Linked DNA regions of Homo sapiens: region 1 is linked to region 2. A link means that fine-mapping ties the variant in region 2 to the plasma level of a protein whose gene starts in the linked region. Region 2 holds a variant in brackets. A gene starts in the other region. All regions are shown on their forward strands.

What was found. PIP is the posterior inclusion probability: the model's chance that the variant is causal. Protein levels are from antibody-based Olink assays in UK Biobank. Linkage for the fine-mapping came from a reference panel and not from the study's own genotypes, which makes the PIPs less certain.
Region 1: it holds the start of IL5RA, and the variant in region 2 is fine-mapped to the plasma level of the IL5RA protein (UK Biobank, PIP 0.96).

Annotation. Positions count from the first base shown.
Region 1 is chr3:3,110,199-3,118,699 of GRCh38, forward strand. It overlaps IL5RA (interleukin 5 receptor subunit alpha), which reads right to left and starts at 176. Exons shown (of 12, transcript NM_175726.4): 1 at 1-176.
Region 2 is chr2:111,055,451-111,064,010 of GRCh38, forward strand. The region is part of intron 16 of ACOXL (acyl-CoA oxidase like); the gene reads left to right. Among named protein-coding and RNA genes, the nearest start is that of ACOXL-AS1, 56 kb to the right of the region's middle. RefSeq lists an enhancer at 1,845-2,044. The variant G/GA (reference allele first, on the strand shown) is at 4,318.

The DNA.
Region 1 (8,501 bases), not on the chromosome of region 2:
AAACGAAAGAATCTCTCGTCCAGATAGCCATTATCTGATAACTGTCTTGTCTGCATTTTCACTCTCTTTCAGAGTTGGTTTGCTCTCTTCAGGAGTGGGAATTAACTTTTACTCATGGTGACAAGGTAAACAAGTTTTCCGTGGGTACTCTAAAGCGTTGCATTTCTGTTTTGTTTATGTGCCTTGTTTGGCTACAGTAGTTACTGTGCCTCTGTCTCCTAGGCAACACTGACACATGATTTGATAGGAAGTAAGGCCTGAGGAGTACCCTCTCCCCACTCACTAGGCAATAGCAGCAATTCTCTGCCCTTAGAGAACCGCCTTAGCTCTTCTCTGCTTTGTGAGCAGGTCTGGTACCCTCAAGTAAATATGTGTGGGGGATGCGTTTCTGGGTGTGATAAATTGCTGCTGTCTGTCACCTGAGATCATCCTACACAAATTGTAACAATGGCAGTGTTGGTCTGTGGGTGCACCCAAGACCACCTTCCTCACGTCACATCCATTTTACCACCCAGCTGTCTTCAGAATGCTTCAATTTCAGCAAACCTCCTTGGCTTTTCCTGTCCTTTGTTCCATTTCTGTTTGATTCCTTCTGGGGAATTTCGAGGTGGCTAGCTAGCAAAGCTGGCTTTAAAAAAGTAGCTTAGCGTGTGAATAGATAAGAGTAGTGCTTATTGTATGACCCACGGCAGAGAGTAGTAAGTAGTTGCCTTTGGAAGGAGACCTTCAGTCTAGCCTAAGCGATGAGTGATGCAGGATTCCCTGTCTCCTTAGGAGCTGACTGGGAGAGTCTCAGACAGAGCAGATGCAGAAAGATGGTGGCCCAGGTTGGATCAGTGGTTCTGTTTGTGAGATGAGAGACAGGCTTCCTGGAGGCAATTTCCAAAAGGCTCAGTGTAGAAGCTGTGCAAGTACAGTCAGCGTGTGTGCCTGGGGTTCCCAAGGTGACCATTTTAGCAGTTGCCAAAATGAAACCGGAGCAATTGTTATCAGGTTGAAAATTGTTGTCAGACCTGAAAAATGTGATTTTCCTCGGGGAAAGGGGAAGTAAAACAAGGAACAGAGAGAGATCCATTTATTTGCTAAGAGGCACCCAGAAAAGTTTAGATATAGTATCAACTATCTGGCCTACTCTTTTAAGTCCTGCCCATCTGTTTATACATGTAACATATTTGTCACTAATGAAACCTTAAAAATACTTATTAATCATTGGGAAGACAGTAATTTCTGGCTTAAAAGCCTGCTTTAATGGCCTCTCTCCGTATATATATATGTATATTTTTTGAGATGAAGTCTCACTCTGTCGCCCAGGCTGGAGTGCAGTGGCGCAATCTCTGCTCACTGCAACCTCTGCCTCCCAGGTTCAAGCGATTCTCTTGCCTCAGCCTCCCGAGTAGTTGGGATTACAGGCACCCGCCACCACGCCTGGCTAATTTTTTGTATTTTTGGTAGAGATGGGGTTTCACCATGTTGGCCAGGCTTGTCTCAAATTCCTGACCTCAAGTGATGCACCCGCCTTGGCCTCTTAAAGTTCTGGGATTACAGGTGTGAGCCACCACACTCAGCCAATGGTCTGTATATTTCTTACATTCATTTACTCAAATATTCATTGAATGCACCTATGCACTATGCTAGGCGCGGTGAAGGGTATAAAGAAAATTAGATCTGGCTGCTCCTTCCATACCACCTTCCTGGGTATATGATCTTTAATTAACTACGCCAATAAAAACAAACAAACAAACAAAGCAAACACATGCTCATACAGAAACACTGTCTCTATGTTTCTGTATAAGCACAAACGAAAAAATGAGAGGCAGGGACTTTTTTTTTTTCTGGCGGGGGGTTGCGGGGGGGTTGTTTGTTTGTTTTGAGATGGAATTTCAGTCTTGTTGCCTAGGCTGGAGTGCAATGGCGCGATCTCAGCTCACCACAACCTCCACCTCCCGGGTTCAACCGATTCTCCTGCCTCAGCCTCCTGAGTAGCTGGGATTACAGGCCCCCGCCACCACACCCAGCTAATTTTTTTGTATTTTTAGTAGAGATGGGGTTTCACCACGCTGGTCAGTCTGGTCTTGAACTCCTGACAGGTGATCCACCCACCTCGGCCTCCCAAAGTGCTGGGATTACAGACGTGAGCCACTGAGCGAGGCCTGTTTGGTTTTTTATGGCAATAATTTAATTCTTTATAATAAAGTGTAAACGTCCAAAGACAGTATGATAGAACATGCTGGAAGAATTCACAAAAGTCGTTTTTTTAAAAAGTGAAATTAAATGTGTCTGCATCCTTTAAGCAAAACAATGTGAGTTTAGCCAAATAGAAATATGAATAGTAATAAAACGAAAATCATGGTTCAGTGGCTCTACCATGAACTTTGGTTAAAGGAGCTTATTAAAGGTATCAACTTCTAGAACTTGATTCCATGGAAATAATGGAAAAATGTAGATCAAGATTTATACAAAAGAGAGCAAAATTCATTGTACCTTTACAATAGTAAAATAGTAAAAGTACTATAGGAATGGTGAAGAGAAATATGTAACTGCTCAAGGTTGAAATATGTGATGTGGATGTCAAAAGGAATGTTTATCAATAACTTTTTTTTTTCTTTTGAGACAGGGTGGTGCCCTGTCACCCAGGCTGGAGTGCAGTGGCAGGATCTCGGCTCACTGCAGTCTCTGCCTCCTGGGTTCAAGTGATTCTCGTGCCTTAGCCCCCGGAGTAGCTGGGATTGCAGGCATGTGCCACCATGCCAGATAATTTTTGTATTTTTAGTAGGGAGAGGGTTTCACCATGTTGGCCAGGGTGGTCTCAAACTCCTGGCTTGTGATCCTCCCACCTTGGCCTCCCAAAGTGCTGGGATTACAGGTATGAGCCAATCAAGAACTTTTAATAACATAGGGTATTATGAAAAAATGTTAAGTAAAAACAACAGGAGGGTATACACACATGTAATTTTTTTTTACAGTCTTATTTTTGGTCAGAAGATCAGACTAACAGGAATAGTTATCTCTAAGTGGTAGGTGTATTAGTCAGCTATTGCTACAGAACAAGCAACCACAGAACCCTCAGTGGTAAACTGTGATAGGCATGTATTTGTAGCCCATGTGTCTGAGTTTTGACTGGGGTCTGCTTAATCTTGGGCTGGGATCCAGATCACAAAGTGAGTTCAGATTTGTTCCAAGTATCTGCCATTCATTTGGAACCAGTGGCTACCCAGGGCATAATCTTTTTATGGTGACAGCAAAAGTGCAAGAGAGCAGGACCAACTGCACAAGCACGCATCAAGCATCTGCTCATGTCACATTCCCTGACATCTCAAGAGGCTGAGCAAATTGCATGGCCAAGCCCGGAGTCAAATGGACGAAGCCCAAAGTACATTCCACCATGATAAGGCCATGATAAGGATGTGGACATGGACAACTCCTAGTGGGGAGTGAAGAAATGGGACCAACAGTTCATTCTACCACGGCAGGGTTAGTGTTTCTCTTACTTTTATTCTGTGTTTCTATATTTACAAACGTTTTATTCTGTACAAATGCAGGCAGAAAAAGTTATTTTAAAAAATATTAGAGACATACAGATCAATTTAATAGAATTGAGAGTCAAAAATAAACTCTCGCATTTAGGGTCAATTGATTTTTGACAAGAGTGTCAAGACAATTCAGCGGGGAAAAGATCAGCCTTTCAATAAGTGGTGCATATCCACATGCAAAAGAATGCCTCGCAGCATAGACAAAAATGAATTCCAATGGGATCAAAGACCTAAAAGTAAGAGGCAAAACTATAAAATTCTTAGAAGAAAACATAGGCATAAATCTTCATGACCTTCATTTTGTTTCTTTCTTTTTTTTTTTTTTTTTTTTTGAGACAGAATCTTACTCTGTCGCCTAGGCTGGAGTGCAGTGGTATGATCTCAGCTCACTGCCAACTCCCCTGCCTCCTGGATTCATGCGATTCTCCTGCCTCAGCCTCCCGAGAAGTTGGGATTACAGGCGTGTGCCACCACACCCGGCTAAGTTTTATATTTTTACTAGAGATGGGGTTTTGCCATGTTGGCCAGGCTGGTCTCGAACTCCTGATCTCAGGTGATCCACCCACCTTGGCCTCCCAAAGAGCTGGGATTACAGGCATGAGCCGCCGCACCTACCCAATGGTTTCTTCAATAAGATACAAAAGCAGACACAACAAAAGAAAAAAATAGATAAACTGGATTTCACCAAAATTAAAAGCTTTTGTGCTTCAAAGGATACCATGAAGAAAGTGAAAAAAGACCGGATGCAGTGGCTCACGTCTCTAATCCCAGCACTTTGGGAAGCCAAGGTAGGCAGATCACCTGAGGTCAGGAGTTTAAGACCAGCCTGACCAGCATGGTGAAACCCTGTCTCTACTAAAAAACACAAAAATTAGCCAGGTGTGGTGGCAGGTGCCTGTAATCCCAGCTACTCAAAGGCTGAGACAGGAGAATGGCTTGAACTCGGGAGGCGAAGGTTGCAGTGAGCTGAGATCGTGCCACTGCACTCCAGCCTGGTCAACAGAGCAAGACTCTGTCTGAAATAAAATAAAATAAAATACAAGGAAGTGAAAAGACAAGCCACAGCATGGGAAAAATATTTGCAAAGACATATCTGACAAGGAACTTTTATTTAGAATATGTCAAAAACTCTTAAAACCAAACAATAAAAAGAAAAATAACCCACTTTAGCCTGTAATACCAGCACTTTGGGAGGTTGAGGTGGGAGGATAGCTTGAGCCCAGGAGTTTGAGGCTCTGGTGAGTCGTGTTCGTGCCACTGTACTCCAGTCTGGGTGACAGAGCAAGACCTTTCTCAAAAAACGAAAGAAAGATAGAAAGAAAAAAGTAAAATAACCCAGTTTAAGCATGGGATAAAGAATTTGAACAGACATATCTCCAGAGAAGATGTACCAACAGCAAAGGTGCCTAGGAACATCTGCTCCATATCATTAGCTATTGGAAATGCAAATGAAAACCACACTGAGATACCTCTTCACACCCACTCCAATGGCTGAAATGAAAAGGACAATAACAACTGTTGATGAAGATGTGGAAACACTGGAACCCTCACATACTGTTGCTGGGGAGGTAAAGTGAGGTGGCCAATTTGGAAAACAGCCTGGCAGTTCGTCAAAAGGTTAAATGTGGAGTTCCCATACGACTGAGTAATTGCATTCCTAGGCAAATACCCACCCAAGAGAGTTAAAATCATGTGTCTACATAAAAATTTATATGTGAATATTCACAGAAGAATTAGTTATAATGGCCAAAGAGTGAAAACAGCCCAAATGTCCAGCAACTGATGAATGGATAAAGAATATGTGGTATATCCATGCCGTGAAATATTATTCAGCCATCAAAAGAAGCACTGATACTACAACATGGATGAACCTTGAACACATGAAGCTAAGTAAAAGAAGTCAGTCACAAAAGATCACACACTGCATGATTCCACTTATATGAAATGTCCAGGATAAGCAAATCTATAGAGATAGAAAATAGATTCATGGTTGCCTAGGGCTGCCGGGGGATGGAGGGAGTTTGGGAAAAATAAGAAGTTACTGCTAATGGGTATGAGATTTTCTTCTGGGATAACACAAATATTTTAAATTGATTGTATTGATGGTTTCCAACTCTGTGAATATATTACAACCATTGACTTGTACGCTTTGAATAGGTGAATTTTATGATATGTAAGTTATATCTCAATAAAACTGTCATTAAAAAATACCCTAGCAGGATTAGATACCCTCAAAGGATTGAAACAGAATTCTGGGTAATCGTTAGAAAAATTCTAGTGTAAAATCAATCTGTTGAGTTATCCCATGTAGCTAAAATTAAAAGCATATCTTTATTCAGTAAAGAATTTCAGTAGCTTAAGCTTTTTTCAGTTCTTTAGTCCTTTTTTCAGTTCTTTAGTCAGAGACCAGTTCTTTGCTCTGAAAACCAGATACAGGAAATCAACCAGAATGTGTAAAAACAATAGCAAAAACTACACAATTAAACTTCTTCTTCTTATTATTATTATTATTATTTTGAGATGGAGTCTCTTTCTGTCACCCAGGCTGGAGTGCAGTGGTACGATCTAGGCTCACTGCAACTTCTGCCTTCTGAGTTCAAGCTATTCTCCTGCCTCAGCCTCCTGAGTAGCCAGGACTACAGGTGTGCGCCACTACGCCCGGCTATTTTTTTTTTTTGTATTTTTTAGTACAGATGGGGTTTCGCCATGTTGGCAAGGCTGCTCTCGAACTCCTGACCTCAGGTGGTCTGCCCACCTCGGCCTCCCAAAGTGCTGGGATTACAGGCATGAGCCACCACACCTGGGCTAAACTTATGTTGTTAATGTAGATTAATGTCCCATTTCAGTCAAAAGAGAAGCTACCATGTTCCTGGGACTGTCAGTTGCCTTATACACACGATCACATCACAGCTCTATAAACCTCTTTTACAGATGAGTATACTGAGGCTTAGAGAATTTACATAGCACAGACTCTTTGTGATGCTCTCCAAATTCACATTGCCTAGAATGTCAAAACCTTAATTCCATGATTGTCATAATTATTATTTTCACAAAACAGTACAATTGTTTAACTTGGACTGTCTGATTTGATGGTGGTGAGTGTGGAGTTCCTCTTGAGAAACTCCTGATTATTTCAGAATAAGTCTGAATGTGATGTTATTTGGGAAGATCACTCTCTCTCTTGTCTTTCCCTCAAGTGTGCATTAAACTGCTGCTTGTATTTGTCTATTTAACATTATATATATATATATGTTATATATATATATTTATATATATATGTTATATATATATATTTATATATATATGTTATATATATAAAATATGTAATTTTTTTGAGGGTCTCACTCTGTCTCCCAGGCTGGAGTGCAGCGGTGCAATCATGACTCACTGCAGTTCGAACTCCTGCACTCAAGCGATTCTCCTGCTTCAGCCCTCCAAGTAGTTACGACTACAAGCGCACACCACCATGCCAGGATAATTTTTGTATTTTTTGTAGAGAGAAGATTTCGTCATATTGCCCAGGCTGGTCTCGAACTCCTAAGCTCAAGTGATAAACCCGCGTTGGCCTCCCAAAGTGCTGAGATTACAGGCATGAGCCACCATGCCTGGCCTCATTTAAATTTTATATCATACCAAATATTATGTTTATATCTCTGTCTCCACCACAGAGATGGCCAGGTGCAAGTCTCATACCTCCGATCTGAATGTAGATTAGACAATAGGTCTTTATTTTATCGAGCTTGGTTTTGCCAGAATTCATCCTAGTATCCAGCACACAGAGGAGGTCCTCGTGCTTTAAGGAAAGAGGGTTTCTGTTTTTGTAAAAGGGAATTCCATTTGAACCTATATTTTGAAGGTAAAAAATGCAATGGAGAACATCACAAGGAAACTGAATTAGGCTCCTCTTGATTCTGATCTGAGGCTGCTGATAATTCAGAATTTTGAAGGTGATTATTCTCAGTCTTTACCCTTGGGCCTTTGTTCTTTTAACTATTATTGAAGTCTCATCTTTTAAAATTAATGACCCGGTATGACATTTCAGAGCAGCTAAAATTGATTTGTCTATTTACTTACCTCTTTTAAAAGTAAAATAAAATTGCATTTGTGTGTAAAATCCCCCAGCACCAATGAAAATTGCGATTCTACATTTGCTGAGAAATATCTTTATTTGTCCTCTGGGAGATCTTAAACTTTAGTTGCCTTCTATTAAACTTTTATGAGAACAAAACTAGCAAATGACTTTTTCCCCAAACAGGTACTTTTGGTTGTTTCAAAGAAAGAATACATTCTTGAAACAGAACTTGTTCTTTTAAACAAATTACTCAGTGTCACTTACAATGAAAAGTGAGGGTGGGGAGGGGTGTGAATAAATTGCACAATATTAAAATTAGGTCATATTTATGTTTTTTCTGACTTGTCTAAATATTGCCTCAAATATCTTCCCCAGGAGGCCTAAAGTGCTATAATTTAAGTTTTTTGCAGAGACAGAGTTACACTATGTTACCCAGGTTAGTCTCAAACTCCTGGGCTCAAATGATCCTCCTGCTTCAGCCTCCTTAAATGCTAGGATTACAGGTGTGAGCCACTGTGCCCAGCCTAACCCATATTTTTATGGAAAGCATTATTTTCCCTTCACTGTCCTTTTTTATTTATTTTTGAGTTGGAATCTTGCTAGGTTGCTGAGGCTGGAGTGCAGTAGTACAATCATGGCTCACTGCGGCCTCAATCTCCTGGGCTCAAGTGACCCTCCCACCTTAGCCTCCCAAGGAGCTGGGACTACAGGCTTGTGCCACCGCACTTCGCTGCTTTTTTTAAAAAAATCTATTTTTAGTAGAGACAAGGTCTGGCCATGTTCCTGGTGCTGGTCTCTAATTCCTTAGCTCAAGTGATCCTCCAACTTTGGCCTCCCAAAGTGCTGGGATTGCAGGTGTGAGCCACTGCACCCAGCCTAATTCCTATTTTTATGGAAAG
Region 2 (8,560 bases):
CATGCACAGTGCAAACCATGATGTCCTTCCTTCTGCAGGTGGCTCTTGCCATGCCCAAGGACCTCATCTTGGCCCCATGCCATTGAGAGAGTCCTAAGCTCCGACCAGCAAGGGCTTCCCTCTGCCTCTCAAGTGGAGGCACTCAGGGGCTGCCCGTTGTGGCCACACACCCTGTGAATGCATCACATGTACCCACATCACCATTCAGTCATCTGGGGCTGGGAATGGGATTGGGCCTCCACATGGAAAAAAGGGGATTCTTTTCTGGGGTATGACTGCATTTCCAAACCCAGTCCAGGATCAGTAGTGTCAGTCCTTGTTCTGAATTCCCATAACACAGCTGATAAAGAGTGGCAGAGTTCCCATAACACAGGTAATAAAGAGTGGCAGATAAAGAGTTGTGGGTGGGCTGTGGTTTGGAATCCAGCCCTGGCCCCTTCTAGCTTTCCCTCCACCTTCTCTTATCCTCGTAAGCTAGAGCCACACAGAAAGAAGTAAGAGTGTGGCTGGCAGTGTTCCTAAAATAAGTTGTTCAACAAATGTTTACTGAGTCCCTATTGTGTGTCAGGTAGTGTTTTTCTAGTACCTGGCTCACTTGAAGAGTATATTCTAATGTTTTTATATTTAATAAGGGAAAAGATTTGGAGGCTAAGGCAGGAGCATTGTTTGAGCTCAGGAGTTCGAGGTGGCAGTGAGCTATGTTTATGCCACTGCCCTCCAGCCTGTGTGACACAGCAAGACCCCAACTTTAAAAAAAAAAAAAAGTTGGGAGAAGAACTACTGGTGACATAGAAATCAGGTTTCAGACCTACACTTCTAGCAACAAATGGTTTTCTCTCATTCCTATGCCATTGAAGCCCGGGATACTTCACTCTCTTCACTCCTAGAGGTCCCCTGCAAGTGCCAAGCCTATGTCAAGTATTCTGCAAAGCTCAGCTCAAACCAACCCCCCAAATTATTGGTAACAATTATCCCTCCTAATGAGCTTCAGTTTTGGAAAGGGATCTTTGAGGCATAGGGCTAACTTTTTAACTCAAAAAAATATATATATATTTAGGCCAGGCATGGTGGCTCACGCCTGTAATCCCAGCACTTTGGGAGGCTGAGGTGGGTGGATCATGAGGTCAGGAGATAGAGACCATCCTGGCTAACACGGTGAAACCCCATCTCTACTAAAAATACAAAAAATTAGCCGGGTGTGGTGGCACATGCCTGTAGTCCCAGCTACTCAGGAGGCTGAGGCAGGAGAATCGCTTTAACCCAGGAGGCGGAGGTTGCAGTGAGCCGAGATCGCACCACTGCACTTCAGCCTGGGTGACAGAGCAAGACTCTGTCTCCAAAAAAAAAAAAAAAAAAAATTTCATGGTAGTATGCCAGGCTCCATAGTAAGTCAGCAAAAGGGTCATTTTGGTGGCTTTCTGGACGCAGCTGGCATGGTCCCTCTTCGGAAACATTTTTGAGTGCCTACTATGTGTCCAGCACTGTGCTAGGCACTGAGGGCACAAATATCCATAAAATGTGGCCCTCACCCTCAGGTAGCTCCTTGACAAATAGGTGAGACAGACACTTCAGCACCTTGGAGTGGGCTAAGTGCCGAGAGCAAAGGAATTTGGGAAGCTAGTGGAGCACTCAGTTGGGCACTCAACTCAACCTGGGTTTAGGGAAGACTCCCCTGAGGAGGTGATATTTGAGCTAAGTCCCCATGTCTCTGCAGGAATTTAAATTTAACCAACTGTGTGGGTTCCACTGTGCATGCTGGTGGTGTCGATGTGACACGTTGTGTTCTGACTTTTCCATTTATAGAGTGTTTCAGGTGCACTGATGCATGCCTTGAGAGCTGACTGCCAAAATAGGGGCCCCAGACAGCTGCCTTCCCAGGGGAGGGGTATCCAGAAACTTCCATTCTTGCTGTGCACATTTCCCCAGCTGACCTATAGCTGTCTTGAAATTATAGCATTCAATATTCCTTCCTTGGCTCGGAAGACTTTACGGGCCTTCCAGTAGTTAATGTCAAAGTTAGGTGTCTCTGGGAGGGAATGCAGCAGAAGCCATCAACAGCTAATAGTTGCTCTAGAATTATTCTGAAAGCATGGTGTCCAGGCCAGGGGCCAGGAGTAGAGAGGGAGAGGGGTGGTAGGGGATTAGGAGGGGGAAGGCAGAGGGGTTCCCTCTCTTGCCACAAACAGATCTGCTCTGCTGTCTGTGCATTTACACTTCGCCTAGCTCCTCCACAAAGTTCTGCTATAAGGAGAAATGGGCCAATGTCTTTCCAATCCAAATGCCATCAGAAGCAAGCTCTACATGTGCCCGACTGCCTAAGAGGAGCATATGAGCGCACAGATGGCAGCAGTATATGAGGACATTACACCTGCTCTGCTCCTTGATACTTCATTGTCAAGCATCTAAATAAGTATCTAAATGGAGAACCAGCTAGGAAGTACAAATCCTGGTGTTCAGAAAAGCAGCGAGCCGCCCAGGCGTGGAGGGTGCAACGCTTTGGGGATGCCTACCCATGCGAGTCTAGCACGGCTTGCGGGTGGGGTGTTCCTTCTTGAATGATCTGTTCTCCATTTCCTCTGTGCACAGCTCTGGGGGCAGATTTCATTTCAGACTGCTTTAGAAGACAGGACAGCAGGAGAGGAAATCACTAGAGACAAAAGAAAATTAGAAGGATTTGGTAGAAGTCATATATAGGAAACTGAGAGCAAAATTTGGCTCTCGGAGACTAAAGTTAGTGGGAGGAGAGAACAGGGCCTGGCCAAGACTTATCATTTCACCATTTAAATAGAGATCAAGATGCTAAAGTTCCCAGGAGACATCTCTTTTGTGACTTGCCAAGAGCACGGAGAAATTCCATCAGGGAGCTTCTGAGATATGGATCCAGACTAGCAGACATTAACAGAATTACCAGGTGTCTAGGGGGATCCCAGACTTTTCAGCACACAGTGAGGGGGATGTAAACACTAAAGTTATATGGGAAGTCACGCTGGATGGATTGACGAAGGCAGCAAAGCCTAGCAGTCACACTGAAGCAGCTCCCTGCCGTCAACCAACCACATTTGCACCCTGATTAAAAACTGGAAACGTTAAGAGACTTGAAGATTTCTGCTCTCTGCACCTGCTTAACTCTTCCTCTTGCCCTTACTAAATTTTAGCTGCTTTCTTTTTGGCTAATTTCACAATGTTCAAAAGTCTATTGGAAAAAAAGAAACCCACAAAGCACCATAGATAAAAACTTTGAGATGGGGAAAAAGAAAAATACTGGTTTGATCTGCTCCCTTCCTCTCCCAGAACCCAGGAAAATGCCCAGTACACAAGAAGCAAGGAAGGGAAGGATAAAAAAAGGAGGGAGGGAATTAGTTCTGGATGAAATGTCAGAAAAATGGCCACCATGAAGGCCCCAGTCAACCAATCACTTCCTCTTCTTGGGTCTCCTGATGGAATGTTTTCATCTTTGGGAAAATCTTTCCACCTTTATCTCTTCTAGAACTGTAAAAATGACAGGATGAGCCAGGGCAGTGTCTCATGCCTATAATCCCAGCACTTTGGGAGGCTGAGGAAGAAGGATCACTTGAGGCCAGGAGTTCAAGACCAGCCTGGGCAACATAGATCTCTACAAAAAATTCTAAAAAGTAAATTAGCCAGGCAAGGTGGTACATGCCTGTAGTTCCAGTTATTCAGGAGGTTGAGGCTGGGGAATCACCTGAACCTAGAAATTTGAGGTTACATTAAGGTATGATTGAACCACTGTACTCTAGCCTGGGCAATACAGCAAGACTCTGTCTCTATAAAATAATAATAATAGTAAAAAACTGGAATTGGGATGGGAACAAGGCAACTTGGTGTGTTCCTGAAAACCTTGCCTGATGGAAAGGGCAGCTAATAACAGCCTATTGATAATTGATTAATGTGTTACATTTTGAAAGTACACAAAACATAACATTCAATATCAGGATTAAGATTTATTACATAAGTGAGACAAACCTTCTATTAAAAGTGGAAGGCTCTCAGATTGGATGAAAAATAACACCCAACCATACAATATATATTTCAAAAATGCACATTTTTCCCAGGAAGATGCTGGAGACATACTCATCCCTATTCCTTCTGCTAAGTCCAACTAAAAACACTGGACATTACGTTTAAAACAAACATAAAAGATTCTGAAAGGTAAGAACTAGAAAGTAGACCAAGCTAGGAACCTCAAGACCCAAAGAATGACACAGCAGGAACTCCCTGAATTTTGTTTGTGCCTCATACATTCCAGAGTTAGAGCTGAAGAAGCTGGCAACCTGGAAAAAGCTAACGCACACAAAG[G/GA]AAAAAAAAAAAAGAGAGAAGAAGGGGTAGAAGAAGGAGGAGGAGGAGAAGGAAGAGGAAGAGAGAAAGGAAGAAGAGGAGAAGAAGAGGAGGTAAATGAGGAGGAGGATAAGGAGGAGAGGAGGAGAAAAAAATGAGGAGAAGAAAGAGTAGGAGAAAGAGAAGAAGGAGGAGGAAGAGGGGAAGGGGTAGGGGAAACAGAAGACTCCTCCTGCCAGGCAGCACAGAAAAATATGTGGTCCCACCTTCACCCATGCCAGGAAAGGCCCAGTGGGGAGTGCAGACTCCACACTCACGAGACTACAATGAGGCAATGCAACCTCACCACTATGGTTGTCAGAGGAGGCCTAGTAGGGAGCTGGGGTTTTCATCTCCACTTGGCAGTAATGAGGCCTCCCTTCCCCTCCTGCCTCACTACAGTGACACTGGAGACCATCTGGGGAGCCTGGACTTCTTCCTCTACCCAGCAATAATAGGTCAGTCTGCCCCCTCCCCACTGCGGTGGTGTCAGAGAAGGCCAAATGGGGAGAGTCAAGACTTTAACCACTGGCTCCAATAGTAATGAGGCCACCCCCTGGTAGCGTCAGTGGAGACCATCTGGGGAGCAGAAATTAGGGACCTCTACCCTTCCCAACCAGAGTGGGATCAGCAGGGGCCTAGTGGGAGCCAGCACCCCACCCCAGCAGCAACGAGGAGCATCTCCCAACCTTGGTGGTCACAGAGGTTGCAGTGTATCACCCTCCCCTGATGGTGCAGCATCACAGGATGTTACCTAAGACAAGGTTTAAATAAGATCCAGAATTTCATCATAGAATACCAAAATGCATAGTTTTCAATCAAAAAATCACTCACAATACCAAGAACCAGAAAATATCAAACTGAATGAAAAAAGCCATCGGTAGACACTAATATCAAGATGACAGTGATGCTAAAATTATCTGGAAAAGGTTTTAAAGCAGTTATTATAAAAATGCTTCAATGAGTAATAGTGAACATACTTGAAACAAGTGAAACAATAAAAAATCACCAATAAAATCATCTCAGCAAAGAAACAGTAAATATAAACAACCAAATGGAAATGTTAGAACTGAAAAATATAACAACTGAAATAAGAATCTCAGTAGATGGGCTCAACAGCAGAATGGAGAGAACAGAGGAAAGAATAAGTGAACTGGAAGATACAATAGAAATGACTGACTCTGTACAACAGAAAGAAGATGGAATGAAAAACAAAGAGAGCAGAGCCTCAGGGACCTGTGGGACTATAACAAAAACTAAATTTATATCATTTGGGGTTCCAGGAAAAGATAAAAAAAGAAGATGGAGCTAAAAAAGTACTCAAAGAAATAATAATTGAAAAATCCCCCAATTTGACAAAACCCATAAACCTACGGATTCAAGAAGTGAATGACCAATAGGATACATCAAAGAAATTCACACCAAGACACATCCTAATTAAAGTTCTGAAAACTGAAGACAAAGAAAGTCTTAAAAGCAATGAGAGAAACAACATTTTATCTCTAAAGAGAAAACCAATTCAAATGACAGCATATTTCTCATCAGAAACCACAGGGGTCAGAAGAAGTGATACAACATTTTTAAAGTGTTAGAAAAAAAGGAACTGTCAACCAGAAACCTATGTCCAGTGCAAATATCATTTAGGAATTAGGAGGAAGTCAAGCTATCCTCAGATTAGCTTGATTACCCAAATAAGTACACTAACAAAGTGGAAAGAAGTTCTCTAAACAGAAGGGACATGATGAAAGAAGGAATCAAGAATCATCAGGAAAGAAGAAAGAATTCGGTAAACAAAGATGGTAAATTCAATTAGCTCTCCTTCTCCTTTTGAATTTTCTCAATTATGTTTGATAATTGAAGTGAAAATTATAACACTGATGTGATTCTAAATAGATGTAGAGAAAACATTTTAGACTATTATAAACAAGGGAGGGCAATAGGATGTAAAGGATGGTAAACTTTCCACACTTCAAACTGTTGATGCACGTAGACCATGAAAAGTTATATATACAAAATGTAATACCTGGAGTAACTACTAAAAAACTACTCAGAGAGATGCACCCCAAAGCACCATGTATAAATCAAAATAAAACTCTAAAAAATGCCCAAGTCATGCATGGTAAGCCAAGGAAGAAAAAAAAGAAATGAGAAAACAAGGAGAACAAACAGAAAACAAGAAATAAAAAGACAGTCTGAAACTTAATATATTAATAATTATATTAATTTTGAATAATGTAAAGGCAAAAATTTAAAGACAGATGGTCAGAGTGGATTAAAAAACATGAACCAATTATATGCTGTGTATAGGGTGATATAGATAGGTTGAAAGCAAAAGGGTCAAAAATAACACATCATGCAAATATTAATTAAAAGATAGCAAGAGCGGCTATATTAATATCAGATAAAGTGACATCAGAACAAAGAAAATAATTGAGACATAGAAAGACAGTCTATATTAACAAAAGTGTCAATCCACCAAGAAGATAGGGCACTGCTAAAGGTATGCACCAAACATGACAGCTACAAAATATGTGATGTGAAAACTGATAGAACTAAAAGGAGAAACAGACAAGTCTACAATTACAGTTACAGACTTCAACACTCCTCTCTCAACAATTGAGAGAACAACTAGACAGAAAATCAAAACACATAAAAAATCTTAACACCCTTAGCATATAGGATCTATGGACATTTTTGGAACACTCTACCCAACAACAGCAGAATGCATTATTTTCAAGTGCCCAAGAACATAAACCAAGATGGACTGTAACATGGAACATAAAGCAAACCTCAAAAAATTTAAAAACCTCAAAAGAAATAAAAATACGTTGAACAGAATGAAAATGAAAATACAACACGTCAAATTGGTGGAACATAGCCAAAACAGTGCTGAGAGGGAAACTTACAGCTTATTTTAAGAAACAGAAAAGTTTCAAACCAGTGACCTAAGCTCCCACCTCAAGAATCTAGAAAATATAAAGAGAAAAATAAATGCAAAGAATGCAGAAGTAAGTAAATAATAAAGATAGGAGCAAGAATCAATGAAATTGAAAACAGAAAAATAATAGGGAACAACAACGAAACAAAGAGCTAGATCTTTTAAAAGATCAATAAAAGTGACAACCCTCTGGCAAGACTAACAAGAAGACACAAGCTACTAGAGTGAGACAGATTATATTAGTATATACTCTGTGCACATCAAAATGGTAGTAAGATAATACTAAGGAAAATTCTATGCCCATAAATTTGACAATTTAGATGAAATAGACTATTATTCGAAAACACACAATACCACAGCTTTCTCAACATGAGATAATTTGGATAACCTTATAACTATTGAGTAAATTAAATTCACAATTTTAAAAATTCAGAAAAAGAAAATTCCAGGCCCAGATACTTTCAGTGGTTAATTTAGAGAAGAATATCCATCAGTTCTTCACAATATTTTCCATAATGTAGAAGAAGAGAGAACTTTTACCAATTCATTTTTTGAAGTTAGTATTCTCCTGATACCAAAATCAGACAAAGACAGAACCAAAAAGAACTACAGACCAATATACCTTATAAACATAGACATAAAAAATCCCTAACAAAATATTAATGGGTAGAATTTAGCAATATATGAGAAGAATTATACACTGACCAAGTGTGGTTTGCTCTGAAGACGCAAGGCTGGTTCAATTTTTACAAATAAACCAATCTAATTCTTCATATTAACAGGAAAAAGAGAAAAAAAAATCACATTATCATTCCAATTGATGCAGAAAAAAGCATTTGACAAAATTCAACAATTACTCATGATAACAACTCCTAGACAAATAGGAAGAAAGTGGAACTTCCCCAACTTGGAAAAGAGTATCTACAAAATTCCTATAGCTAACATTATACTTAGTGGTGAAAAATTGAATGCTGTCCCCCTAACACTAAAAACAAGGCAAAGTTTGGTCTTACTATTTCTATTCAATGTAGTACTAGGAGTTCTAGCCAGTGCAATAAGGCAAGATACAGAAATAAAAGACATATCCTTTTAGATAATAAAGGGAGACAAAAGTAGCCCTGTTTGCAGATGACATAATTGTTTATGTAGAAAATTCCAAGGAATCTACAAGAATGAAGCAAGGAAAGAAGGAAGGAGAAAGAAATGAACGAAAGAGAGAGAGAAAGGACGGAAGGAAAGCAGGCAGACAAGGAAAGGAATTCCTAGAACTAAAAAGTGACTCAGCAA